4 linked regions of the Homo sapiens genome follow. The protein of the gene in region 1 purifies or fractionates together with the protein of each later gene. This does not show direct contact. Each region holds a gene or a part of one and is shown on either strand. Other genes may lie near its edges. The genes, in order: SF3B2, SF3B6, SNRPA1 and RBM17.

Region 1 (7,552 bases):
TGACAGACCTTCAGGTATTTGGAAGCAGTAACCCTGTCTCCTCTGGGTGGGCACTCGGCCAGGCTAAACATTCCAGGTCCTGAGAGAGGGTGCTGCTCGGACACTGTGGGAGGCCTGCCTTCCCTTGGCAATTTGACTCCAAGATGCCTGTTTTGGAGATGGGGCCAAGGCAGTGCCTCTCAGGGAGGGGGCCACTGGGCTGGGTTTCCATCGGATTTTCTGGCTGGTGTGGGGTGCATGATGGTGCTGCTGGAGCTGTGCTTTAGAGCAGTGGCCCTGGCTCCTGCCCTCAGATGCTTCACACGACTCCCCATTGTGCCTGGTGTCTTCTCCATAGAGAGAGTTCTCCCAGCTATCCCAGGCAGGTCAGGACGCCCAGGCTCATCAGAATGTCAGTGCTAATTTTAGTCAGAACAATCTACCTCACGCTGCTGCCCAGTTTTGCAAATTGCTAGCTTTTCTCCAGGGAACCAAAGAAATAGTAGAGCCGACCAAAGCTTTGAAAATGGGCCGGGGTGCCCACCCTCCTAAAGGAGCCCTTTCTCCTCTGTCTCCTCTGAGCTCTAGAGCTGAAACCGATGCACTTAGAGGAAGGGGTGCCCTGGACTGGACCACTTGGACCTGACTGCTGGATGGCCCGGAGACTCCATCCTGTCCTGACTTGAGGGATGGGACAGCCCAGTGTTGAGGGACGCTGACCCAGGGTGCTCCAGAGGAGGGGCGAAGGGCTGAGGGGGTCTGCAAAGTACTGGCCTGGGAGAGCAAATCTTTCCACCTCCCTCTTTTTCCTCCTCCCCCACCCCCCAGCCTGCACCAGGTCTGCCCCTGGCCCCCCAGCCTCCTCTCTCTCTCATCCACCCCCGCATCATCCCTGCCTTGGAATTCCCTCCATCCTCCTGTCTCCATTACTGCCCACCCGCACCATACCTCCCACTCCCTCAATTTCATCCCAGCATCCCCCAGGGATCCTGCCAGTGGGATCTGATCACCATAGGGGATAGGCCAGATTGGCCCGCTCACCCTATCTTCTCCCACTTTCCAGGGGTAGAGCGCCCCCCTCCTCATGCTTTCCAACCACTAGGCCCCCAAGACACTCTCCCGCCCGCCTCTCGGCCCCCATCCCGGTCTGGTCCACTCCCACCCCTCCAACCCCATGCCGGCCACTGCAGTACTCACACCGCACGCCTGGGCTCTGCCTCTGGCCCGGGTTGGGGGCGGCCGCCGCTATCTCTGGACCCTTGTCTCGAAATCCGCACGGGGTCCGAGGGTGCCCGGGGCCCTGCGCGCCGAGTGCCGGTGGCTTGCCTCTCAGCGCCTGGATGGGATCAGGTGGCAGCGTCCGCTAGGCTCGCTCCTCCCGGCTCTGCCCGCCCCCCGCCCCCCGCCCCCCATCGCACACCGGAGGAAGGCGAGGGGCGGGGCCAGGCCACGAGCAAGTAGGGGAGAGGGGAGAGAGGGGAAAGGAAGGGGGACGGGGGAGGGGGGGTGGTTCCCTGGCTTGCCCGCTGGCTGCCGTGAACAGTCTCTGGGTGGCATCTTCAGATGCAGTTGTCTTACTCTGGCAACCTTGCAGAGTTGGACACTAATGTGGCCAGCTCCCTTCTCTCACTCAGGCAGGGAAACTGAGGCCGGGAAGGTGTCTGGATACTCCTGCATTGCTGGGTATTCTGGGGCACCGCCGGTCATACGTGGGCTTCTGGGTGAGCCAGATGCTGGTACACGTGCAGGTACTCACATCCTCTGTCCTCCTCCAGTAGAGAAGCAGTGCTCCAGCCTTGTCTGGTCCCATCTCTGCCCACATGCCCCCTTCCCTTCCAGCGTGTCCCCCATACCCTCTGATGTAGCTTCTGGCTGCTCACCCATTTTTCCTCACTAGGACTCCAGACCCACTCACTCCTGACCAGAGCTATAGTGAGGCTGGGACCCCTGCCTAGGCACCTGCCACCAGGCATCAAAGAACCCAAGTTCAATCCTGGTTTGCTCTTAAATCCCAGAGTCAAGAGGCAACTCCCTAAGCCCTATTGCTTCCAGCTGTAAAATGGGAAGCTGTTCTGAGGTAGCAGAGATAATACACACGAAGGCTCCATGTGAACTTCTTAGTCCTCAGCTCCCATCACCTGGGAGCTGGGCAGCAGCACCTCCCAAAGCCATGCCAGACATCAAGAGCCCTACACTGAGTTCTGTGGCTGGCCTGCACACCTGCTTTCTATTTTGCTCTGGGCCTGGTAAAGCAAGGATCCTGGAGCTGGGTAGCCACCCAAAGGTGGGACTGGAAGGGGCTGGATACGCCCTTCTAGGCCCACATAGGAAATAGTGTGAGGGTCCTTGTTATGGTTGAGGAGGAGGAAATAGGGACTCTCAGAGTCAGAAGGACTGCTGGTGGCCCCAGTTTGGCCTCTTGGGCATGTCACCTTCTCTGCCCATCAATCTTCCGCTGTGTACAATATCGTGGGGGAGGAGGATCTTGAGACCTTGCCTCCTTCCCAGGGCTGTTATAAAATGAGACTCCAGGCCGGGTGCAGTGGCTCACGCCTGTAATCCCAGCACTTTGGGAGGCTGAGGCGGGCGGATCACGAGGTCAGGAGATCGAGACCATCCTGGCTAACGCGGTGAAACCCCGTCTCTACTAAAAAAAATACAAATAAATTAGCTGGGCGTGGTGGCGGGCGCCTGTAGTCGCAGCTACTCGGGAGGCTGAGGCAGGAGAATGGCGTGAACCCAGGAGGCGGAGCTTGCAGTGAGCGCAGATAGAGCCACTGCACTCCAGCCTGGGCAACTGAGACTCTGTCTCAAAAAAAAAAAAAAATAAATAAATAAATAAAAAATAAATAAATAAAATGAGACTCCATCAGCCTTTAGTTTATCCTGCCTCAGAGACCCCGCCCCCTTCCCTAGCACCTACACATGCCTTGGGGCCCTCAGCCTCAGATGACCTGCCCTGGGCTCTCCAGTTACAGGGAGCAGAAGAGCCTTCCTTTGGGCTAGAAAGGTTCTGCCTGAGTGGGCTGACAAGCTGGAGGGAAGGGCGCTGTTTTTCTGTCTTCGTTACTGTCCTTTCCGGGTTTGGCTTCTCCTCTGGGAGTGTGGCTGCAGGAGCCTCCCATAGTGATATTGATGGAAAGGGGAAAGGTCAAGGTTTGGGTAGGAGGAAGAGGACTTCCCACCCAGTGCTAGGATGTGAGCCAACCTTTCTCAACCCAGTCCTTTTCCCTGTCTCTCCCAAACCTCACCTTCCCCCGACCTGGTGCCCCATTCTTTTTTTTTCCCTGTTCCCAGCTTCTTCTCCACTGGGGGCAGTTGGCAAAATGGAGCTGGAGAAAAGATCTGAAGGGGATGTGTAGGGGGAAAATGAGACCATTTCACTTGAGTCTCCCCACTCCCTTTCTCAACACACATAAAAAACACACACAGGCTAGCTGTTGGTGAGAGGGCAGAGCTAGTGGCAGAGGTGGGGAGAGAAACTGAATTGATGGTGTGGGACAGGGAGAGGTGGATGCTAGGCAGGCAAGAATCCCTGCCAGTCTCTGCCTCTGTCTCCAAAGGCCAAGGGGAGTTGGGGTGGGGAGTGGGAGGCAAGGTGGGGCCCCCAGTGCAGGTGCGGCTGAGGGAAAAGGGCCTGAGTTTATTTTTGAGACTAAAAAAGACACAAATGCTTTCACCAGAAACATTGTTCCTTTTTTTCCAGTAATCATTTATTGGGCGCCTCTTGAACGCCAGGCGATGCGAGACTGAAAATGATCAAGTCCCTGCTCACATTTTTGGGATAGAGGTAGGAAGAAAGGGCAAGAAAGACTTAACAAACGGTGGAGATTCGAACGTATTATGGGAGCTCTAAGAAAGGAAAGGAAAGCGGGAGGAGGCTTAGTGGAGAAGACGACATTTGAGCCGGCCTGGAAGGTGGAAAAGGGGGCTTTAGAGTCGCCCTTCCCCCAGGTCGGCAGCTGGAGCTCAGCCCGGGCAGGCCTGCTGCTCTCCCGGCTTGGATCCCCTTTCAGCCCATTCATCCGGGCCTGGGCCGGGGGTGGGCGGGCAGACAATCAGACACTGTTTTATCCCAGGCATCGGCTCCAGCCTCCCGCTTGGCGCCCGCAACGCGGGGCCGCCGGGGAAATGAGTCTCTCGGGACTCCCTGGGAGCGTAAGCGTTCGAGGATCTGACCGGAGGGCCGGGCCGGAAAGCTTGAGAGCCTTCGCTCCCGCAGGTGAGGCGCAGAAAACACTCCCTCGGGGAAGTGCCAGCCCTCCTCGCAGCCCCGCCCTCCGGCCCGCCGCCGGCCTTCGGGGCCGTAGCGGCGCGCAGGGCCCGCAGAGACCGAGACCTGCGCACTACAACTCCCAGGAGGCCTCGCGACCAGACCGCCGAGGGGCCACTAGAGAAAGGTGCGTCTGCGGCGAATCCCGTCGCCCAGCGCACGGCAGCGGGTGTGCCTGAGTGCGCGTCGCCTCCCAACCAGAGAGGACGTGGCATACGGCGCCACCGGAAGTTCCGGCAAGTGGGCCCTGAGGCTGGCCCCAGCTTCCGGGTTGGTCGCGCGCCTTCCTGCGGCTAAGATGGCGACGGAGCATCCCGAGCCTCCCAAAGCAGAATTGCAGCTGCCGCCGCCGCCACCTCCAGGCCACTATGGCGCCTGGGCTGCCCAGGAGCTTCAGGCCAAGTTGGCAGAGATCGGAGCTCCGATCCAGGGTGAGGAACACAGGAAGTCGAGGGGCCTTTACGGGCCTGCGGAGAAGCGGAGCCTGGTTACCCGGGAGACTCGGGTGCGAGGGGCGGAGGCAGGCCGCTGGGGCCTGACCTGGCCGGGCTGGCCTGCCCCATTGATCGTGTACTTTGCCCTGCAGGTAATCGCGAGGAGCTGGTGGAGCGGCTGCAGAGCTACACCCGCCAGGTAGGTGTTGGCGGCGGGACGTCAGGATAGGCCGAGCTTCTCCAGGAGACCTTATATACCCCATCACGGCTCGGTCTTCATTCTTTCTTTATCTCGGCACAGCAAGGCGGAGGCTTGCCCTTTTTAGCTTGTTCTTGCCTTTGCCAGCTTAGTTGTAATTTCTTGTATCCATCTTGGTCCTCTTCAGTGCCCAGCCAGAGCGCTGGCAGACAGGCACTGGGTACGTTTTGTTGAATGAATTGGGAGCGAACGTCGTTTAGTGAAACAGCTAGTTTTGGACTGACCTAGAGTCCTTTCTCTTTTGCAGACTGGCATCGTGCTGAATCGGCCGGTTTTGAGAGGGGAAGATGGGGACAAAGCCGCTCCACCTCCCATGTCGGCACAGGTAGGGAGATTCTTCTGTTTTTTAAGATTCCATCTGCTGATCCTTTTGTAGTTCATGAGCATGATGATTGGGTGTTCACGTGCATGTGTGAGATGTGACACCCTTGCACATTACTCGCCTGACCTGAGTGGGGAAAAAAAAAGATTCCATATGTTCAGGGTAGCCCTTCCTCTCACTTGCAGTTGTTGGGCAGGGAGGTACTGCCATGACAGAATTGTGAGCTCTTCAGTTCTCTCTTTGATGCTGACACTTGCCTCCTTTTCCACTGTCTGCTTCTCCAAAAGCAGCTTGTGGCCGGGTGCAGTGGCGCATGCCTGTAATCCCACCACTTCGGGATGCTTAGATGGGACGATCGCTTGAAGCCAGGAGTTCGAGACCAGCCTGGGCAACATAGTGAGACTCTGTTACTACAAAAAATTTTAAAAATTAGCTGGGCACGGTGGCACGCGCCTATAAAGTCCCTATAAAGAGGCTCAAGGATTGCTGGAGCCCTGGGGTTGGAGGCTGCAGTGAGCTCTGGTTGCGCCACTGTACTCCATGTACTCCATCCTGGGTGACAGAATGAGACTTTGCTTCTTTAAAAAAAAAAGGGGGGAGGTGATGGGGGAGGGGCTGGGAGAGTGTCAGAAAAAATAGCTAATGCATGCCAGGCTTAATACTTAGGCAGTGGGTTGATAGGTGCAGCAAACCACCATAGCACACATTTACCTATGTAACAAACCTGCGCATACTGCACATGTACCCGAAAACTTACAATAAAATAAAATTAAACCAAAAAATAGGAAAAAAAAAAAAGAGGCAGGGCGTGGTGGCTCATGTCTGTAATCCCAGCACTTTGAGAGGCCAAGGCAGGTGGATCGCCTGCGGTCAGGAGTTTGAAACTAGCCTGGCCAACATGGCGAAACTCTCTCTACTAAAAATACAAAAATTAGCTGGGCGTGGTAGCACATGTCTGTAATCCCAGCTACTTGGGAGGCTGAGGCAGGAGAATCACTTGAACCCTGGAGGTGGACGGTGCAGTGAGCCAAGATCAAGCCCCTGCACTCCAGCCTGGGCAATAGAGCGAGACTGTCTCAAAAAAAAAAAAAAGAGGCAGGGCATGGTGGCTCATGCCTGTAATCCCAGCACTTTGGGAGGCTGAGGTGGGCGATCACTTGAGGTCACGAGTTCAAGACCAACCTGGCCAACATGGTGAAACCTTGTCTCTACTAAAAATATAAAAATTAGCCGGGCATGGTGGCAGGTGCCTGTAATCCCAGCTACTTGGGAGGCTGAGGCACGAGAATTGCTTGAACCTGGAAAGCGGAGGTTGCAGTGAGCTGAGATTGCGCCATTGCACTCCAGCCTGGGTGACAGAGCGAGACTCTTGTCTCAAAAAAAAAAAAAAAATACAGCTTGAATACAAGGAAGACTGACTTGTCCTTACCCAGCTGGAAGCAATCACCCTTTTCTTTGCCTGCCCCAGGCACAGTTCCCATGTTCTTTTGTGTGACATCGAGGGCTCCCTGATTTGATTTCACACCCCTTGCGTTTAGTAGTCATTGGGGTTTGCATTGCCCAGATACAGTGGTTCCTGTTTATGTAAGTCCTCTCAATTTCCATGTTCCTTCTGATCCAGGATTTGCCTCATTTTCTCTAAAGCAGTGGCTCTGACCTGGCATCTACTGATCTCTGTGTGTAGGATGAGGAGTCCCTAGATGGCCTCAGAGGCGTCTTTGAGTCTCCTAGAATTGTATGCAGAATCTATATTCAGGATATCTTTTTGGAGAGAGTGGATAGCTTCCTTTGGTTGGTGCCAGAAGTTAACATTCTCATATCTTTATAGAGCTGTGGAGCATTCTCTCTTATGGAGTGGTAACTATGTATCATTTGACTTAGAATTCCAGCTCCTGACTCAAAGTAGATCCCCCAGATATTTGCAGAATGAGTAGATAAATGCTTCCTAGTTTTATGATCATATTTTCTCCACAGCTCCCTGGAATTCCCATGCCACCACCACCTTTGGGACTCCCCCCTCTGCAGCCTCCTCCGCCACCCCCACCACCTCCACCAGGCCTTGGCCTTGGCTTTCCTATGGCCCACCCACCAAATTTGGGGCCCCCGCCTCCTCTCCGTGTGGGTGAGCCAGTGGCACTGTCAGAGGAGGAGCGGCTGAAGTTGGCTCAGCAGCAGGCGGCATTGCTGATGCAGCAGGAGGAGCGTGCCAAGCAGGTAGGGCAGGTGGCAGCCCTGGCCTTGGACTCATTAGGTCCCTGAAGGGGCAGTGGAGCCTTAGAGAAAGC
Region 2 (7,936 bases), on another chromosome or scaffold:
TTTCTCCAAAGAACAAGATGGTTTGTATTTGAGTCACAGCGTCCCACCCCCACCAGCCCACCCCCACCCCACCAAATAAAAAAGGAAAAGCAAAAGATTGATTTGGCATTTGGTGCAACGGCCAGGTGATCTTGATAGAATATGCCTGTGTGGGGAATGTGTAGCAGTTGCAAAGTAAAGAGAACCCTGTACTTTCTGTCACAGGAAATGTTCAGGCTGGAGACTATGTGCTAATCCATGCAGGACTGAGTGGTGTGGGCACAGCTGCTATCCAACTCACCCGGATGGCTGGAGCTATTCCTCTGGTCACAGCTGGCTCCCAGAAGAAGCTTCAAATGGCAGAAAAGCTTGGAGCAGCTGCTGGATTCAATTACAAAAAAGAGGATTTCTCTGAAGCAACGCTGAAATTCACCAAAGGTAAACAACTGCTTCTACAGTTCAGCAGGAATTTAAGAGATGATTAAATAAAAGCCCCACCAGTCTCAAAGTTGCCAGTGCTGTGTATCAGTCTTACCTCTGCTAAGTGCACAACAGCTGCCCTGGCCAAATTCTAGTACTATGGTATTTGACCACTGGAGACAGGCAGTCATATTTAAATCTAAGATGGTTTCCATGTGCATTCTTGCAAGAGATAAGATTCATCCACACTTTAGACCATGCAGACTTGGTCTGGAATTATCCAGCACCTTTTCTTCCCAACCAGCCATTCCACACTTAGTTAACAGGAGGCTTGGAGGCAGAGACCAGTTTGGAGCCAGCCATGGTAGGGTTGGGTGGTAGCACCCTAAATGAGTAAGTAGATGTGCACACCTCTGTATTCCAAAGCCAGACGTGTCTATTTTTGGCTCATCCCTTTCCGTTTCTCTTTCTTTTTTTTTTTTGAGATGGAGTCTCACTCTGTCACTGAGGATGGCGTGCAGTGGCTTGATCTCGGCTCGCTGCAACCTCCGCCTCCCAGGTTCAAGTGATTCTCCAGCCTTAGCCTCCTGAGTAGCTGAGATCACAGGCGCACCACCACGCCCAGCTAATTTTTGTATTTTTAGTAGAGACGGGCTTTCACTATGTTGGCCAGGCTGGTCTCGAACTCCTGACCTCAGGTGATCCACCTGCCTCAGCCTCCCAAAGTACTGGGATTACAGGCATGAGCCACCATGCCTGGCCTCCATTTTTTATGTGAGTAGAAAAGGAGAGATGAAACCAAAGCTAGAAAGCCTATGATTCCAATAACCTAGTGCGGACACTTCCTAACTTCTATGTGAACAACTAGCCTAGGTTGGGCCTCCTGTATTCTGTTCTCAATCGTGCCTGGGTGTCAGTGGGACTGTACTTATTTTGGCATGACAGGAGACGCTAGGTCATGGTGCCCCATTTCCCTCTTGCTGTAGCTAGGCCTCATAAATGGTGAACTTCATACATGCTATCATAGAGTTCTGCTATCTAAACTCCATTTACAACAGTTCTTCAAGCAGTGTTTCTAATTCCAACCTATAGATTTACCACTTGCATCTGTATTTATATCCATAATCCCCAAATATACCATGGTATCTTATTTAGCACCAAGCTGACTAGCATCACAAATCTGTTTCCTATGGAAGGTGCTGGAGTTAATCTTATTCTAGACTGCATAGGCGGATCCTACTGGGAGAAGAACGTCAACTGCCTGGCTCTTGATGGTCGATGGGTTCTCTATGGTCTGATGGGAGGAGGTGACATCAATGGGCCCCTGTTTTCAAAGCTACTTTTTAAGCGAGGAAGTCTGATCACCAGTTTGCTGAGGTCTAGGGACAATAAGGTGAGTGATGAATGAAAAGAAAACATGTGATTTAACCCAGAAAAGTGTGGTTCATTTACATTACCCCGAGAAAGGAAGCTCTACCTTAGATTACGGAGGTTAGTTTCTATGAAGAAACCTCCCCCTCTGAAGATAAAGAGGGAACCCGATTTCAGAGAACTGATTCAGATTGGTTGATAGAAGCTTCAGTATCATGAAAAGAAGTGTAGCTGATACTTCACAGGTTATCTGAACATTCTAACAGAATGAAGAAAGCACTGACTATATTAGGAAGTATTTCGAGTAGTTCCAAGACTTTGTTTTCAAAGGCAGAATTCATCTCAGTGTGCTAGAAAGTCTCTTAGGTGAGTAAAAAAATAAGTAAGCCTTGGCCTTCAACAGATTATAGGTTCCATGCCGGGCACAGTGGCACTTGCTTGTAGTCCCAGCTACTTGGAAGGCTGAGGCAGAGGATTGCTTGAGTCCAGGAGTTTCAAGGCTGCAGTGAGCTATGATTGCACCTGTGCATAGCCACTGTACCCCAGCCTGAGCAACATAGCAAAACCTCATCTCAAAAAAAAAAAGATTATATGCTCCTGAAATATTCCATCTGGCAGTCTAGCAGGTACCACCTTTGGGAATGTTTCCACCATAGGGTTTTGCACCAGCTGAGGGACAGGAGAGCTTAAGCATCCTTTTTTCACTAAGCCTATATGAGTCCTATCTGTGGCTGCCTCCTGGGTAAAGACACTTTATTTAAAAACAATTCTTAGGCTGTCAGTGACACTAACATTTTACTCCAGGCTTCAGTCTTTATCTGGTACAGAACAGAAGTTACACATTTGGAGGTACAAGGGAGCCAGAGATCACCTGTAACCCCCCTTTAGCTCCTATGTGGTCTCTTCAGCTGGCTCTAGAAACCAAATTGATACCAGCAGATTGACAGGAGAAAAGCATGTACTTTTTTTTTTTTTTTTTTTTTTTATGGAGACAGGGTCTTACTCTGTCACCCAGGCTGGAGTGCAATGGCACAATCAGCCTCCTGGGTAGCTAAGACTGAAGGCATACCACCATGCCTGGCTTGTATTTTTTATAGAGACAGGTTTTCACCATGTTGCCCAGGCTGATCTCAAACTCCCAGGCTCAAGTGATTCGGCCAAAGTAAGATGCTTTTGTAATTTTTAGACAAAGAACAATAAATTTGAGAAGAAATAAGACAAAATCTGGCTAGGGATAGTAAATTTCTAGGGAAGTCACTAGGAGATATATGGGGGTGGGGGGTGTAAAACTAGTGGAAGATAAGGGTTACTTCCTTAAGTGTATTTATTCAGTTCCATTGCAGCCCCGTTTCCAGTCTCTGGTGATAAGGGCTTTTTGCCCTAGTATGGGGAGGGTACCCCTCTCAGAGGAATCTTTATGACTTGCTACATGCAAGAAGAGACAGGTCAGCTAGCCTTTTCTGAAACTACAATTTCTCCAATGCTTTCACCTCAAAATTAACAATATACCTATCGGACATATTCTGAGATGGCACATGACTCCTTCAAGGGTATTTCACACACATGCTAGGAAGTGAGGGGTTAAGTGTCCCTGTGTGCTTTTTCAGATACGTGGCTTCAGAGAGAGCAAGAAGGCTGAGGAGGATGAGGAGGGCAGGGTGAGGCTCTCTCCCCAGGCTGATGATCTCCTTTCCCTTGTCTTAGTACAAGCAAATGCTGGTGAATGCTTTCACGGAGCAAATTCTGCCTCACTTCTCCACGGAGGGCCCCCAACGTCTGCTGCCGGTTCTGGACAGAATCTACCCAGTGACCGAAATCCAGGAGGCCCATAAGTACATGGAGGCCAACAAGAACATAGGCAAGATCGTCCTGGAACTGCCCCAGTGAAGGAGGATGGGGCAGGACAGGACGCGGCCACCCCAGGCCTTTCCAGAGCAAACCTGGAGAAGATTCACAATAGACAGGCCAAGAAACCCGGTGCTTCCTCCAGAGCCGTTTAAAGCTGATATGAGGAAATAAAGAGTGAACTGGAAGGGTGGCACGCGGACTGGGGCCGCCGCGGCGGGGTTGAGGTGGGAGTCCGGACGGGCGTCGCAGCGGGGATTACTGAGGCCCGATCAGCTGACGCTCAACCTGAGGGCCCCTCCAGGGACGGAGATTCTGGGTATAGTTACAGCGTCAGCCGTGACACAAGCCGCCAGAACCCCACATATTCCGCCTTGCGCACAGCTAGAGGCCCAGGCCCACCACCTCCGGCACCTGCCCGCGCGCCCCGCAACCAGTGGGCACCACAGCAGGCCCCAGCCCTGCCCGCTACTCACCTGGGCCCCACCCCACCTCTCGCCGCCCTCCTCAGGCCCCACCACCTCCCGCTACACATCTGAGCCCCGCCCCACCTCCACCACTTTCCTCAGCCCCAACCACCTCCTGCTACACTTCTGGGCCCCGCCGCACCTCCACCACCCTCCTCAGGCCCCGATCCCTTCCGCTACTCACCTGGGTCCCGCCCCAGCTCAGTCCTCCTCAGGCCCCGCCTTCGCCCGCTACTCACCTGGGCCCCACCCCACCTCTCGCCACCCTCCTCAGGCCCCACCACCTCCCGCTACACATCTGGGCCCCGCCCCACCGCCACCACCCTCCTCAGGCCCCGCCCCTTCCATTACTCACTTGGGTCCCGCCCCAGCTCACCGCCTTGCTCAGGCCCGGCTCCCTCCCGGATACTCACTTGGGCCCCACCCCAGCTCTCCGCACCCTCCTCAGGCCCCGCCCCCTCCCGCTACTCACCTGGGTCCCGCCCTACCTGTCATAACCCTGCTCAAGCCCCGCCTCCTCCGCTCCCCAGTTACTCACCTGAGACCCGCCCCAGCTCTCCGCCCTCCTCAGGCCCCGCCCTCTCCACCCGGGTTCCTCTGCTCAGGGCCTCCCCGACCGGAACATCTCGCCTTTTGGAGGCTACGCCCCGCCCTTTACGGTACAGAGCCCGGAAGTGTCTTGGACTCTCGCCTTTCCATCTTCCGGCCTCGAGTCTCGCTCAGGCTCGGTTTTACCCCGGAGTCTATTCGAAGGGGGCTGCTACGTCAGCGCGTCTCAGCGTAAGACGGCGCTATTCCGCTGTAACAGCTTCCGGCGGGTCCTGGATGTTGATGTCCTGCATCTAACGCGGTGTAACCCCCGAAGCCGAGCGAGCTCCGGAGGAATTTCAGTATCTGCTACGGTAACTTCATCAGCCCGCCAAGATGGCGATGCAAGCGGCCAAGAGGGCGAACGTGAGTATCGGGTGTTCTGCGGAGGGTGGGAGAACTTCGGGTTTGACTTTCTTAGCGGCGTGGATCGGAGCATTCTTGCTCCTCCTCCGTCCCCAGAGCGGAGAACTCCAGAATTCCTATCCTGTCAGCGAAGACACTATCCGGCCCCATCCTCAGAGATATGCTCCTTGAGCCACATTTCTGTCCCCACCCCTTTTGAGAGTTCCTCAGTCTCTACCCTAGTGTCAGTGATAGTGTTACCCCTATAGCCTCTTTGCTTGACCCGCACCTAAGGACCTGGCGTTAGGATTATCTCCTTGACTTAAAGTCGATATCTCAGAAGAGTCCTCAACTAACTTAATGGTTCACCAACAACTAGGACCTGGGATTCCCCTCAGATCATGGTGCTTTTCGGATCCTTCATTAACACATTAATTAAAACAATATTTTTTGAGCACCTACTATGTATTCTGCTTGCCATGTGGGACATAATTCATCAATTATATTTATTGAATAGCTACTATGTGCCAGACACTAGTCTTACGTATTGGGAATACAGCAGTGAATAAAACAAGTCCTTCTGCTTACATTCTAGTGTTTGAGAGTACAGTGTTACGGAAACTTTTAAAAAAAAAAAACTCAAAAAAGAGATTAGTCAACAGTAAAACGCTTAGAGGTGTAAGATGAAGTTAGGCCGAGTGAGGTGGCTCATGCCTGTAATCCCCGCACTTTTGGAGGCTGAGGTGGGAGGATTGCTTGAGCCCAGGAATTCAAGGCTGCCTTGAGCCATGATTGTGCCACTGCGCAGCACTTCAGCCCAGGAGACAGAGCAAGACCCTGACTCAAAAAAAAAAAAAAAAACAGAAAGAAAGAAAGAAAGAAAGAAAAGACAAGCAATTGACCATTGTATATGTAAATGGAGACTTTTGGTGACCTTGATGATAGGAATCATTTCAGTGGATGAAAACTTGATTGCAGTGGGGTGAAAAGATGGTGGAAGTTGAGAAAATGGAAACAGCAAAGACACTCTGTCCATGAGTTCTCATTTAAATAGGAAGTAGGGAAATTGGATGATAGTTGACTTTTTTTTTTGAGATGGACTCTCACTCTGTCACCCAGGCTGGAGTGCAGTGGCACAGTCTTGGCTCACTGCAACCTCTGTCTCCTGAGTTCAAGCAATTCTCCTGCCTCAGCCTCTTGAGTAGCTGGGATTACAGGTGCCCACCACCATGCCCGGCTAATTTTTGTATTTTTAGTAGAGACAGGGTTTCTCCGTGTTGGCCAGGCTGGTCTCAAACTCCTGACCTCAAGTGATCCACCTGCCTTGGCCTCCCAAAACGCTGGGATTACAGGCATGAGCCACCGCACCCGGCCAGATAGTTGACTTTTTAAAAGATGTGTGATATAGGTGTATCTTTATGCCAATGGGAGCAATCCAGCAGAGTGTGCGAAACATGATATGGAAGAAAGATAGGTTGAGTTTAGAAGTGAAGGTTTTGAGTAGATGAAGGTTGGCGTAGTAATAGAGGGAAAGTAGTTGGATATAGATGAAAAGTATTTCAATTGGTCATGTCTATTTTCTCCAAGAAACAAGAATCAGGGTCATCTCCTGGGATGGGCAGGGAAGAGGGTACAGCCCAACTCAGGTGTTAGCAGGAGTGATGGTGGTAAGGTTTGCAAAGGCCTACACCCACCACCATGCCTGGCTAATTTTTTAAAATTTTTGTAGAGATGGGGGTCTCACTATGTTGTCCAGGCTGGTCTCAAACTCCTGGGCTCAAGTGATCCTCCCACTTTGCCTCCCAAAGTGCTGGGATTATAGGGACCAGCCACTGCACCCAGCCTCTGTTGCTTTTTCAAAGATCTGCCCATTTTCAGAAACATCAAATTATACCTCTTATTCTTGGCTTTTTATTATTACGTATCATTAAGAATTTTTTAAAATGCCCCTAATTATAGGGGCATTTAAATTATAATTTTTTAGAATGCCCCTAATTATAATAACAATACGTATTTCTCATTTTAGATTCGACTTCCACCTGAAGTAAATCGGATATTGTATATAAGAAATTTGCCATACAAAATCACAGCTGAAGAAATGTATGATATATTTGGGAAATATGGACCTATTCGTCAAATCAGAGTGTGAGTCTTACTGAGTCATTTAAAGAAAATGATAGCATAATCTGTAATTTCAGAATTATAGCTGACGATGAGGCCACCCTGTGCTGTGTGCAGTGCGACAACCCTTACCAAGAGCCTTGAGACTAGCAGATTGAGATCAGAGAGATGAGATCTTTTTGAAGGGGGGAGAAAACCTACTGAGACCCTAATGATCCAGCTCAATGAGAGCCAAGAAGAGGATTTGAGTTTCCTCAAAGCATTCATTGAAGTAGTAATGAATGCTTTGAGGAAACTGGTTGAGAAGGGAAAGAACTAACATTTATTGCATACCTGTTATTTGTAAAGCTAGCTTGTTACACTGTGTTTTTTGTATGCAGCAGCTCTATAATTTTCTCAACAATCATCACTGTCTCTTTAAATAACCCCAGAATTTCTGAATAAACTAAGTAAAAGAGTATAAAAGTAACAGAAAAAAATGATATTTTCAACTACAGCTCTTTCAATTGAAGATGTAAAAGTATAGAGGAAAACATCTAATTACAAGCATTCACGTTTTAATTTAATATAAAGATTGGGGTTCATACCTTCAAGTGATATTTACTGGACATCTACTGAATACCATTAACCATAATAAGTGCTTTTATTTGGATCAACAAAACTATAGCCCTGAGAGTAAAGTACCTTTCTATCTTACAGTGCTTAGTGGTAAAATCTTCTGACTCTAAATTGAACCTCTACATTACACAGTACCATAGCCTCTGACACCCGAACTCATATGAAAGGGCTAGTGACTTAAG
Region 3 (6,989 bases), on another chromosome or scaffold:
AAATAAAACTATCTTTTTTTTTTTTTTTTTTTTTTTTTTTTGAGACCGAGTCTCACTCTGTTGCCCAGGCTGGAGTGCAATGGCATGATCTTCACTCACTGCAACCTCCGCCTCCCTGATTCAAGTGATTCTCGTGCCTCAGCCTCCCAAGTAGCTGGGATTACAGGTACGTGCCACCACACCCGGCTAATTTTTGTATTTTTAGTAGAGGCGGGGTTTCACCATGTTGGCCAGGCTGGTCTCAAACTCCTGACCTCAGGTGACCCACCCACCTCAGCCTCCCATAGTGCTGGGATTACAGGCGTGAGCCACCACGCCCAGCCAACTATCATTATTCTCAAATAGCATGGTTATGTATGTAGAAAATCCACAAGAATGGTTACAGATAAACTTAAGTAAATTTCACAAGATCGCTGGATGTAACGCCAATATACAAAAATCTGCTGTATTTAAATATATCAAACTAATGATTAGAAAATGGAGTTTTTAAACAAAAGGTACTATTTACAGTAGCATCAAAATCTATCAAATATCTAGACAATCTAGTAAAGGATATACAAGGCCTTGACACAAAATCTGCAGGATGCTGCTGAAATTAAAGAGTGCCTCAATAAATGTAGGGCTATAATATGCCCATTGATTGGAATACTTCATATTGTAAAGATATTAATTCTCTCCAAATTCTTCTACAGATCCAACACACTACAAATCAAATCATGGGTGCTTTTTCACATATATCTATAATTTATGTTCACATGCAAAGGATTAGAATAATCAGATAACTACTAGATAATCTGAGAAAAAAATGGGAGCTTTTTTTGAGGGACAAATACCAAGTCTTTTTCTAAAGCTTGTATTCTGCAAGGATAGCTGACTAAACCCATGGAAAAGAACAGCTAGTTCAGAAGCAGAGGCCCTCACATATTTGGACACTTGATTTTTGAAAAGAGCTGCTCTGCAGAGCAGTGGGGGAGAAGATGGTCTTTTCAATAAATGGTGCTGGGTCCACCAAATATCCATATGGGGAAAAATATATCTTCTTCCCTACCTTAGACTATGCACAAAAATCTAGGCCAGAGAGACTGCAGATCTAAATGGACAAGGTGGAAGAAGAAAGCTTTTAGAAGAAAATATAATTTTGGAGTAGGCAAAAGTTTCTCACAGCGTACTCGAAAACTATTAGCTGTATAGGGAACGGTTCATAAATCAGACTGTATTAAAATGAAGAACCTCTATTCATCAAAAGATACCATTAAGAGAGTGAAAACCCAAGCCACAGGGGGAAGATACTCACTACAGACATAGCTCACAAGGTTCCTATTGAAAAAATATAAAGAGCTCCTACAAATCAGTTTAAAAATAAAGCCCAATAGAAAAATGGGCAAAACACCTAAGCAGACACTTCATTAAAGAGGTTATCCAAACAAACATAAATATATTTTTTAAAGTTCTCAATTGTGTTAGTAATTAGGGAAATACAGTTAAAACCACAATTTCATACCATTACCTATCTACCAGAATGGCTAAGATTAAAAAGACAATACTAAACGTTAGCAAGGAGTTTAAGTTGGCAACCACTTTGGAAAACTATGTCCTACTTAAGCTGAACATAAGTAAGCCCTATGACCCAGTAATTCCATCCCTGGGAGTATATCAGTATATGTGTTCACATAAAGATATATATTATTGAGTTTGTAGGTACACTATTTATAATATAAAAGAGTGAAAATTACCCAAATGTTCATCAACAGCAGAATGGATAAGTAAATTGTAAAACATCCACAATGAAATACCATATTACAGTGAGAATAGATTAACTACATCTACACACAAACATAATGTTTAGCAAAAAATATGCAAGGTACTTCATTTGCATAAATACAAAACTAGATAAAGCAAATCTATACAAGATGGCAGGATAATGGTTACCCTTGGGGCAAGGGTGGTGACTAGATGAAGACAGGAGGAGGGCTTCTGGAATGTGGCAATGTCCTGTTCTTACGAGGATGCTAGTTGGTTGGGTGTGTTCAGTTTGCATTCTTCTATATGTATATCATACTTCAATAAAAGTTCAAGGAGAATCATCTCCGGGTGGATTGCAGAACTAAATGTGAAAAGCAAAACAATCGTCTAGTAGACCACATAGGAAAATATGATGGGGGTAAGGGAAGATTTCCTAAGGCACATGCACATGCACACACACCCAATCCACTAACCTAAAGAAAATAATTGAACTACATAAAACTTGGAAACTTCTCAGCCAGGCGAGGCGGCTCACGCCTGTAATCCCAGCACTGTGGGAGTCTGAGGCAGGTGGATCACTTGAGCTCAGGAGTTGGAGACCAGCCTGGGCCACATATCAAAACCTTGTCTCTACAAAAAATACAAAAGTTAGCCAGGCCTGTTGACCTGTGCCTATAGTCCCGGCTATTTGGGAGGCTGAGGTGGGAGGATCTCTTGAGCCTGAGAGGTCAAGGCTGCAGTGAGTCCTGATGGCACCACTGCACTCCGGCCTAGGTGACAGAGTGAGACCCTGTCTAAAAAAAAAAAAAAAAAAAAAAAAAAAAAATCTAATCATCAACACCATTAAGAGTGAAAAGGCAAGCCACAGAGTGTGTTCATATCCCTAATATATAAAGAAATTCCACAAATCAATAAGAAAAAAGGCAGACAACTCCATAAGGAAAAAAAAAAAATGAGCCAGGGACTCGAAAGAACACTTAACCAAGGAAGCTATCAGAATGGGCACCATACACATGAGAAGGTTCTCAGCTTCATTAGTTATTAGAGAAAAGCAAAGCAAAGCAGTAGTGCAATACCACCACACACCCATCAGAATAGCTGAAGTTATAGAGTTAAAATGCCAAGAAGGCTGAAGCTGGAAGCCATGAAAACCCTTACACACCGCTGGAGTGTGTATATTATTTCAGCCTCTTAGCATAACTGTTGGGCATTACTTATTGATGATAGATATACCCTATGTCCCAGCAGTCCCACTCCAGGACAAACTCATGCAAACGTGCATCAGAACCACGTACCAGAAAATTCATAGTAGCATTACTCAGAATAGCCCTAACTGAAAACAACTTTGATGTCTATCAACAGCAGAATAAGTAATTTATGGTATAATATATACAATGGAATTCTCTTCAGCAGCAAAAGCAAACAAACCATCTCTGTATGCAACCTGGATGGACTCCAGACATAATATAGACTCCATGAAACTAGGCCAAAAAAAAAAGCATACTGCATGATTCTATTTATAGCAAAAGCAAGCAAACCGAATTTGTAGTGTTGAGTTCGCGGTTGCCTTTTGGGAAAGAGGGAGGCTTTCAGAATAGCGGTGTTTTGGATCCCGGTGTCGGCTACGCAGCTGTGTTCACTCTGGTCATTAATCACTGTAAATTCCTGATATGCACACTTTTATGTATATCACATTTCATACATATGAATATTCAGAAGTCTAAAGGTCACAAGCTTAACCGCAAACCCTACCGTGCCCGAGGCCGGGCTGGACTTGCGGGGCGGTGGGGTTGTCCCGGCGACCTGCCCCAGGCGGGCCACCTAGCCCGGGATCTCACACTGTAGCCCGGAGCCAAGGCCCAGGCCCGGGGCGGGCACCTGAACTGCTGGACCCTTCACTGAACCCCACGGGTTCCCGCGACGGCTGGTGGAGGGAGGACAGTCACCGCTTCCCCTCCCACCTCGAGGTGCGCTAATGCATGAGAAAGTTCCCCTCGGGTGTTTCCACATTCGCCTTAACTTTTAAACACCAACGTCTGGAATCAGGGGTCCTCCAGACTCCGAAACACACCCTAGGAAACAACCCAGAACGAGACACATCCCCTGTGCGCGCGCCACGACTTCCGGCAAGAACGCCCCCGGAGGCGTGGCTCTTCGATTGCTTCGGCCTGGCGGTCGAGCTGCGCGCGCACTCGGCGGCTGCGATTGGTGCTGCCTGGCGGCGGGGCGCGGGGCACGCTGGGACGTCTCGCTGGCGGGAGGCCACGGGCTTTCCACAGCGCGGGGGAACGGGAGGCTGCAGGATGGTCAAGCTGACGGCGGAGCTGATCGAGCAGGCGGCGCAGTACACCAACGCGGTGCGCGACCGGGAGCTGGACCTCCGGGGTGAGTCCGGGGGCGTGGGCGGCCAGTCCCCAGGCGGCACCGAGCCGCCTTATTTTCCGCGCTTTGCCGCGTGCACCGAAGGCCGGAGCTTGGCCCGCGGGCCGGTTGTCTGGGCTCCGACCGGGCTGCGCAGGGAACGCCGGGCCTGATTCTTGCCGTTGTTGCCAGATGAGCATCCGGTTAAGCTCCTGGGAGCCTTCTGTTAGCGCCGTGCCTCTTGACAGGCACGGGTGACTTCATTACTTCCTGGTGCGTCCTCGTGGGGCCCTGTTAGGCCTTGCTTGGCTGTTTCGCCGCTGGCTGTTTGAGGGCCCGGAAGAGCGGCTCATTAATGGTTGTAACGCAAGTGCAGGGCGCGGGATTGGTTCTTAATACTTGCCGCCAGATGATATTTTGAGCGTAGATAGGATATGTGTTCATTATTCCTAATGTGAGGGAGGAAACTAAGTCCCCGAACAACCGCGATTGTTTCCTCCAGTATTTTCTACTTAGTAGCTTTAATTGTCTGGCGTTTCCCCTATATGAAGACGTTTTAAAAATTGAACTGTGTCACCCAGGCTTGCACCGCCGGGTGCTGTGTGTAAGTTGTGGAAGCGCTCGCAATTATTCAGATTCCTGTACTATTTCAACCTTAGCAAGACTTGGTAAGATACTGGGAGGGCAGCTAGCTAGTTGGCATTTCAGGAGACGGCTTTAAAAGGGACGTGATAGAGCAACTTCTCTGAGGATAAGACCATGCTGTCGTAGCCTGAGATTTGTTCCCATGGGGACCTATGGCCTCGGAGCAGCATCGCTGCGGGATCTGCTTAGATTTCTTGCCGACCTTTGGGAAATCCCACTGTTTTGTGTTGTGTTGTGTTGAGATGGAGTCTCGCTCTTTCCGCCCCAGCTGGAGCGCAGTGGCGTGATCTCGGCTCACTGCAACCGCCGCCTCCCCGGTTCAGGTGATTCCTGTGTCTCAAGCCTCCCGAGTAGCTGGGAATACAGGCATGCGCCACCACGCCCGGCTAATTTTTTGTATTTTTAGTAAAGACATGGTTTCTCCATGTTGGTCAGGCTGGTCTCGAACTCCCGACCTCAGGTGATCCGCCCGCCTTGGTCTCCCGAAGTGCTGGGATTACAGGCTTGAGCCACTGCGCCCGGCCCAACTCACCACTTTTGATGATCTCTGCCATTTCTCTTTATGGAGCATGTGCAGTGTTGAGAATACGTATTTTGATGCAGTACGTGTAGTACAGCTCTGAATTGTGTCCTTTAACTTTGGGTAAGTTCTTTTTTTAGTAGACCTTGCTTCTTCGGAATATTTCTTTTCTTATAGTGCCTAACACAATAATTATGCCCAAATTAGACAAATTAACATTTGAGTGTTCACAGATTTATTACTGTATTTAAACCATTGATCTTCAATTCTGAATTGGAGCTGGGGGAGGGGAGGGAGAACTGTCGTGATATGTTGAGGCTGTTCTGATGGGTTCTAAGAATCTGGCCTGTGGAGATGCAAGAGTGGAGAACTGTCGTCCACAATGTTTGAACGCCGTTTGGGCACTGAGACTAAGCAGCTCCAAGTGTAAACTCCTGTTGTGCCGATTCCGCTTAACTAGCCCAAACGACTTAGGACAGTGTGAGGCACCTTGTAAATGTTCTTATAAATGTTAGCTGCCTATATCAGCCATTGTTATTGTCCTTGTCCTTGTTGTCATCAGATTCTAAGCTTCATGGCACTGGGGACTTGAGACTCGTTCAGCGTTTTCTCTCTAGTATCTTAAACAGCGGCAAGTCATGCGTGACCCGACATAGGTGCTAGGTAATACTTCCTGAATAAATCAAAGCCTGGAGTCAGATACTATGAAATACAGCTAATGCTTTAAGGGGCAACTGTTTAGTTATATTAATACCTCTTGTGTTTTTTTCCTCCATTTTATAGGGTATAAAATTCCCGTCATTGAAAATCTAGGTGCTACGTTAGACCAGTTTGATGCTATTGATTTTTCTGACAATGAGATCAGGAAACTGGATGGTTTTCCTTTGTTGAGAAGACTGAAAACATTGTTAGTGAACAACAACAGAATATGGTACGTGTCTGTAGGGGAAAGTAATTTTTTCCCCTAGAGTAAATGTTGCAGTGTTTCCTGAAGAAGTTGTAGCACGTGCTACTGGTTAAACCTACATGTTTCTTTTTCTTTTTCTTTTTCTTTTTTATTTATATTTTGAAAAAATATTTTTTCCATAATGGAAGCCACATTCAATACATGTTTTTTCTTAAAATGAGAAATGAACTTCACTTTTCCTATAGAGATCCAGAGATTAACCTGGCATTAGTCTAGTCTTACTTGTATCTGTTCAGAAATCATGTATTTTTATTTTCATGGTTAAGTTTCTAAATAAAAACATGTTGCTTTGTATACATTTTGGCTTCTAAAACAATTATCAAAGGGGTCATAGTAAAAGGATATATAAAGGTAACAATTATACTTTTGACTGAGCGTCTCTGCTTTTTTTTTTTTTTAACTGCAACTAATTTCTAGACTGTTACTTATTGAAATTGAGATCTTTTTTGACCCTGCCTTCATCAGCTCTGTGTAAACTTTATTGGAAAAAAAGCACTTGGTGTATAGATAATGTCTTTAAAGGTACTGGGTGGTGAGTGGGATTTCCTTCAGATAGAAATATTTCTCATAGGTTAACCATTCCCCTATAGTATAGTTGTTGTGTCTTGTACCTGAGCTGGGAATCCAGAATTATTTGTATTTCTGTGCTGCCTGCACAAAAAATCATGAAGTGAGTTAAGTAGTTTGTGCCACCCAGGAGTTGCACCTTTTCTCAGGTTCCACTAGATGGTATGACAGTGGAATTAGCCCCAG
Region 4 (4,941 bases), on another chromosome or scaffold:
CCGTTCATGCACAGCTTAGGATACATCACGAGCCTGACAGGTGAGTGCCAGAAACCAACAGTTGTCCCGACTTGTGAGGTTATCTGAAGTAAGGCAGCCGGTGGCTGGATTAGTAACTGCATATTCCCCTGGGCCCGTGACCTTGAACGTTTGCTCCAAGTCAACTCACCTATAGGAATTATCACTCACATGCCCTGTCAGCCCTTTGGGAAGTGAGATGAGCAAAAATTGCAAGTAATGGTGGAGGCTCAAAACATCCAGATGCTATTGTAAAAACATGCCAAAGCAAAGCAGAGGCTTTTATTGCAGATAAGGCTGTGTTTTCGCTCAGAGACCAATTGTGTAGATGCCTAGGACATAAATGGTGGGGATCGCTATTGAAATTAAATTAATTATTGTAAGTAGGACTCAGTTCTGTAACACATCTAATGATATGCTGCTCAGTTCTGTAACACATCTAATGGTATGTTTTGATACAGATGCATCCAAGAAGTCAGATTCAAATCCGCTGACTGAAATACTTAAGTGTCCTACTAAAGTGGTCTTACTAAGGGTAAGAAGCTGAGGAAAGCAAGCTCTCTGCCTGCCTAGATTTGTGTGTGTCACCCCAGCCTACCCTGCTCCCCCTAAAAGTTAAAACTGAAAATGATACTTTTGCAAATAATACTTTGGGCAGATCCCACGTAAGGCTGATTTTAGATTTTTCACTAATGTGTAAGTCTCTTTGCTAAGTACAGTGTTTAAGACTGCAGTGAGTAATTAAATATTTGAAATTGCTAGAGCTTCAGATAGTTTATACATTTTGGTGCTTGCATAGATGCTTTTGTAACTCTTTACAGGCTTAATATATGTTTTAGTGTTTTAAGAAATACTAACTTTTGGGTACTTTGGGGATGAAATTTTTCATTATGTCGTTTGGGATTGAGAACATTTACCATCACTAAGTCATATTTATATACCTCTGCTAGGTGTTTGTAAGTTATACTTGGTACTTGAATTTGTTTATTTTTGTGTTTAAAGAACATGGTTGGTGCGGGAGAGGTGGATGAAGACTTGGAAGTTGAAACCAAGGAAGAATGTGAAAAATATGGCAAAGTTGGAAAATGTGTGATATTTGAAGTAAGAGTGTTTTCTTTTGATGTTTATAACACAAGTTGTAATTGGCACATTACAAAACATTTTCTACAAACAGGACAGGGTATGCTATAAGTAACATTCTTACTGCAGAAGGTGACAGGCGTTGGTTATTTGTACTTCTCTTGCTCAATTATTACAGTTTTAAACATAAAGACAATGATTTCAAGTTTTATTTGATGAAGAAACAGGAATGCTTCATGATTGAGGATCAGTATGATGACTGAAGACCTTGATTCTAGCGTGCTCAGTAGTTTAGTTCCTTAGACATGCCTTTGGTTTCAGTCATTTGGTGAGTATTTAGTGCCTCTCACATGCACTGCACTGTGCGGAGAGCACTTGGATTACAGGAAGCATGCTCTGTACTCTCAGTGGTGTGTTCAGTTGAAGAAACACATAAAATAACTGAAAGATATTCAGTTACTAGACTAGGTAGTATTGACTAAGTTCAGGAGTTGAGAAAAGGATTAGATCAGTGAAAAAATAGACTGCCTTGTGAGCAATAGCAGATATGGGCTGCGCTTTGAAACGAACAGGTGGGATTTGCAGGGAAGGGTATTCTGATTGGGATAATGGCTCGTAGGAGACAGTGAAGATCAGGACTACCAAAATGGAATGGATGGGCCTGTTGGGGATTAGCAGAAGTGCTTAGGTGGGTGGAATTACAGAGGGCTAGGAAAGCTAGACAGAGCTAGTCAAAATGAGACCTGATGTGAAAGGCCACTAGGGCACCAGCCTTTTTAATCTGAAAGCTCTGCTTCCTCTGTTTCTTTATCCTGTTGCTGTTTGTTGACCACATAATTATTTGTTTACGTCATCAGCTGGCACAGGGCCTTTATGAGGTCAGAGACTGCCTAGCCCTGTGTTCCTGGCACCTAACAATGCCTGTCATAAAAACAGGCATTCAGTACGTTTTTGATGATGAACAAATTATACTTATTTCCTTGGTATTTGACAACTACTTGACTGTATATGATGATAATTAGAATATCCACTCTGAGAAATCATTTAAAAGAGAAAACTCATTCAATGCAATCTCAAATGCCTTTACTCATCACGCTCTCATTTTCTTCCAGATTCCTGGTGCCCCTGATGATGAAGCAGTACGGATATTTTTAGAATTTGAGAGAGTTGAATCAGCAATTAAAGGTTAGTGGTACAGCTAAATATTAAAGAATAAAAAAGTTGAATTTACAGCCTTAATCTTTACAAGTAAAGTTACTGTTTAATTAAAGTTAAACCTTTATCTTATAGGATACCTGTATTAACTGTCTTTTGTTTGCCTTTCAGCGGTTGTTGACTTGAATGGGAGGTATTTTGGTGGACGGGTGGTAAAAGCATGTTTCTACAATTTGGACAAATTCAGGGTCTTGGATTTGGCAGAACAAGTTTGATTTTAAGAACTAGAGCACGAGTCATCTCCGGTGATCCTTAAATGAACTGCAGGCTGAGAAAAGAAGGAAAAAGGTCACAGCCTCCATGGCTGTTGCATACCAAGACTCTTGGAAGGACTTCTAAGATATATGTTGATTGATCCCTTTTTTATTTTGTGGTTTTTTAATATAGTATAAAAATCCTTTTAAAAAAACAACAATCTGTGTGCCTCTCTGGTTGTTTCTCTTTTTTATTATTACTCCTGAGTTGATGACATTTTTTGTTAGATTTCATGGTAATTCTCAAGTGCTTCAATGATGCAGCATTTCTTGCACTAAAAAAAAAAAAAAAAAAAAAACTAGAAAGTTTTGGGACATGGGGTTATATTAAATTATTCTTTGTTTTTCTTTTTCTTTTAATAAAGCCTGCAAGTTACTAAATTGTAGTTTCATAAATTCTGTAGTAAAGTATCATCTTGGCAGTGTGCCAAAGGTGAAAATGATGCTTTCTCTAACAGAGAAATTCTTAGTGACTCCAGTCGTAGAAAAACGTCTTTACAACCTGAATAAGATTGAAGAATTGTGAACATACCATGGCCTATTGGATGAATCATTTGCCGTAGGCTAAATCAGACTGTAGGGTTTGTGATGGATTTATGGAGTATGTGGGTATAGAAATCATGAATCTAGCATTTGTTTTCAGAGATTCAAGCATAGTCTTAAGGGTAGATCAGAAATGACAAATGAATTCAAAACCTAGCAGGTGCATTGTAAATGTGTGCCCAGTTATGTTTTGGAAATGGCAGTTCCTTGGGGTCATGTTTCTACTGGCAAAATTTGCAATAGTGTTCTATTGTATGTAATTTTAAAATTTATAAGATTATCCACGTTGGCCAAGTAAACTGTACTGCCAATAGAATTCTGGAATTGTGAGAAATTGTATCATTGAAGTTCAGTAGGATGTGTGGCTTAAAAATTTATCAGGACCACAAAAAAGAAAACAAAAATATTTGGTACTGAGGTTCATTGCCAGGGCAGGAGGTATTTCCAGAAAATACTCATGCCTGTGTTCTGTTCCTTGCTTTCCCAAATACTGCATGTGACTTTCCTAAGCGGCAGCTGAAAGACTCGAGCCCGTGCTGTCTCCTTTGGTTATTATGACATGAAAGTGTATCAAGAACTCAGCATTTCTTTGCATCCATGGACTTGGTTTGGAGACATAAGGAATATTCTGACCCTTTTTAAAAAAGGATTTTCTCATGTTTTTATTTAACATAAATAAAAGAATAACATTTTATCTTTTGTGGTATTATTTTATTGAATAAAATTGAGTTTTATGATAAAAGTGCACCTGTTCTGTAAAGTAAGTTGGGGTTAAGGAATGTGAGGTAAATTACATAATTGAACATTGTGGAAGACAGAATCAAAAGCAGCCCTGGAACTTCAGTTATCTATGGAATTAGGCATACCATTCCTCAAGTGGAAACCATGTTTGTGCTTACAAGTACCGGAGTGTGCTTGTTTAATTTTAGAAACTAATGGTTCCAACCCACCTTTCATGCATGCATTTATTGTTGTTATGCTTTGTAAAACATTGTTTGCACCTAAATGGGTGGCTTTTCCTAACATTCTCATGGTCAGCAACCAGAGAGTTGCAACCAACTCATACTACTTGATTTCCGTTCGCATGAGGACAGCTTGGTGTGTGCCTTTCTCCCCAGTCTTTTATTTTTAAAATAACTGTGTTAATCAGTTAGTGCTTTATTTATAATGAATTTCTGATAGTCGAATAATTTCTAAATCTCCTGCAAGTTAGTACTTGAGAAATTTGAAATTAATTTTCAATATTAACATTTAAGCTAATATAAAAATTTTAAATTTCAATAAAAATTAAAAATTATGTAAGCTACAATGTAACTGGCAAGTTTCCGTGTAATAGACGTTTGTCATTCTTGGTGGCCCATCTGTGAGTTTTTGAAACCCCTTTTTCTTTTTTTTTCTTTTTTTTTTGAGACGGAGTCTTGCTCTGTCGCCCAGGCTGGAGTGCAGTGGCATGATCTGGGCTCACTGCAACCTCCGCCTTCTGGGTTCACGCCATTCTTCTGCCTCAGCCTCCCAAGTAGCTGGGACTACAGGCGCCCGCCACCACGCCCGGCTAATTTTTTGTATTTTTAATAGAGACGGGGTTTCTCCGTGTTAGCCAGGATGGTCTTGATCTCCTGACCCGTGATCCGCCTCAGCCTCCCCAAGTGCTGGGATTACAGGTGTGAGCCACCGAGCCCAGCCTGAAACGCCTTTTTCTGTGTGGGGAACTTCCTTGTTTCCCTCCTCCCCGCAAGAGACTAGAAACTTGCTTTCCCAGCCTGTCTTGCAGGTTGAGTAGGGTTGTGCGCTTGGGATCTCTGATCAGACCGGCACCGCAGTGTGGGAGAGA

What was found.
Region 2: the proteins of SF3B2 (region 1) and SF3B6 fractionate together in Homo sapiens (co-fractionation; 5 studies listed by BioGRID and IntAct, with this or other methods). This does not show direct contact.
Region 3: the proteins of SF3B2 (region 1) and SNRPA1 purify together in Homo sapiens (affinity purification with mass spectrometry; 7 studies listed by BioGRID and IntAct, with this or other methods). This does not show direct contact.
Region 4: the proteins of SF3B2 (region 1) and RBM17 purify together in Homo sapiens (co-immunoprecipitation; 5 studies listed by BioGRID and IntAct, with this or other methods). This does not show direct contact.

The regions. Positions count from the first base shown.
Region 1 is NC_000011.10:66,047,835-66,055,386, forward strand, and holds the start of SF3B2 (splicing factor 3B subunit 2), read left to right. Parts: upstream 1-4,529; 5' UTR 4,530-4,550; coding exon 4,551-4,683; intron 4,684-4,838; coding exon 4,839-4,885; intron 4,886-5,192; coding exon 5,193-5,270; intron 5,271-5,309; exon of another isoform or gene 5,310-5,394; intron 5,395-7,241; coding exon 7,242-7,481; intron 7,482-7,552. UniProt on the Homo sapiens protein: Component of the 17S U2 SnRNP complex of the spliceosome, a large ribonucleoprotein complex that removes introns from transcribed pre-mRNAs.
Region 2 is NC_000002.12:24,073,300-24,081,235, reverse strand, and holds the start of SF3B6 (splicing factor 3B subunit 6), read left to right. Parts: upstream 1-4,909; 5' UTR 4,910-5,006; coding exon 5,007-5,036; intron 5,037-7,041; coding exon 7,042-7,160; intron 7,161-7,936. Other genes in the region: TP53I3 (quinone oxidoreductase PIG3), read left to right, coding at 205-417, 1,596-1,792, 3,475-3,657.
Region 3 is NC_000015.10:101,292,236-101,299,224, reverse strand, and holds the start of SNRPA1 (U2 small nuclear ribonucleoprotein A'), read left to right. Parts: upstream 1-3,976; 5' UTR 3,977-4,046; coding exon 4,047-4,128; intron 4,129-6,052; coding exon 6,053-6,200; intron 6,201-6,989. UniProt on the Homo sapiens protein: Involved in pre-mRNA splicing as component of the spliceosome. Associated with sn-RNP U2, where it contributes to the binding of stem loop IV of U2 snRNA.
Region 4 is NC_000010.11:6,113,029-6,117,969, forward strand, and holds the end of RBM17 (splicing factor 45), read left to right. Parts: intron 1-479; coding exon 480-553; intron 554-1,020; coding exon 1,021-1,119; intron 1,120-2,210; coding exon 2,211-2,283; intron 2,284-2,424; coding exon 2,425-2,528; 3' UTR 2,529-4,419; downstream 4,420-4,941. UniProt on the Homo sapiens protein: Splice factor that binds to the single-stranded 3'AG at the exon/intron border and promotes its utilization in the second catalytic step. Involved in the regulation of alternative splicing and the utilization of cryptic splice sites.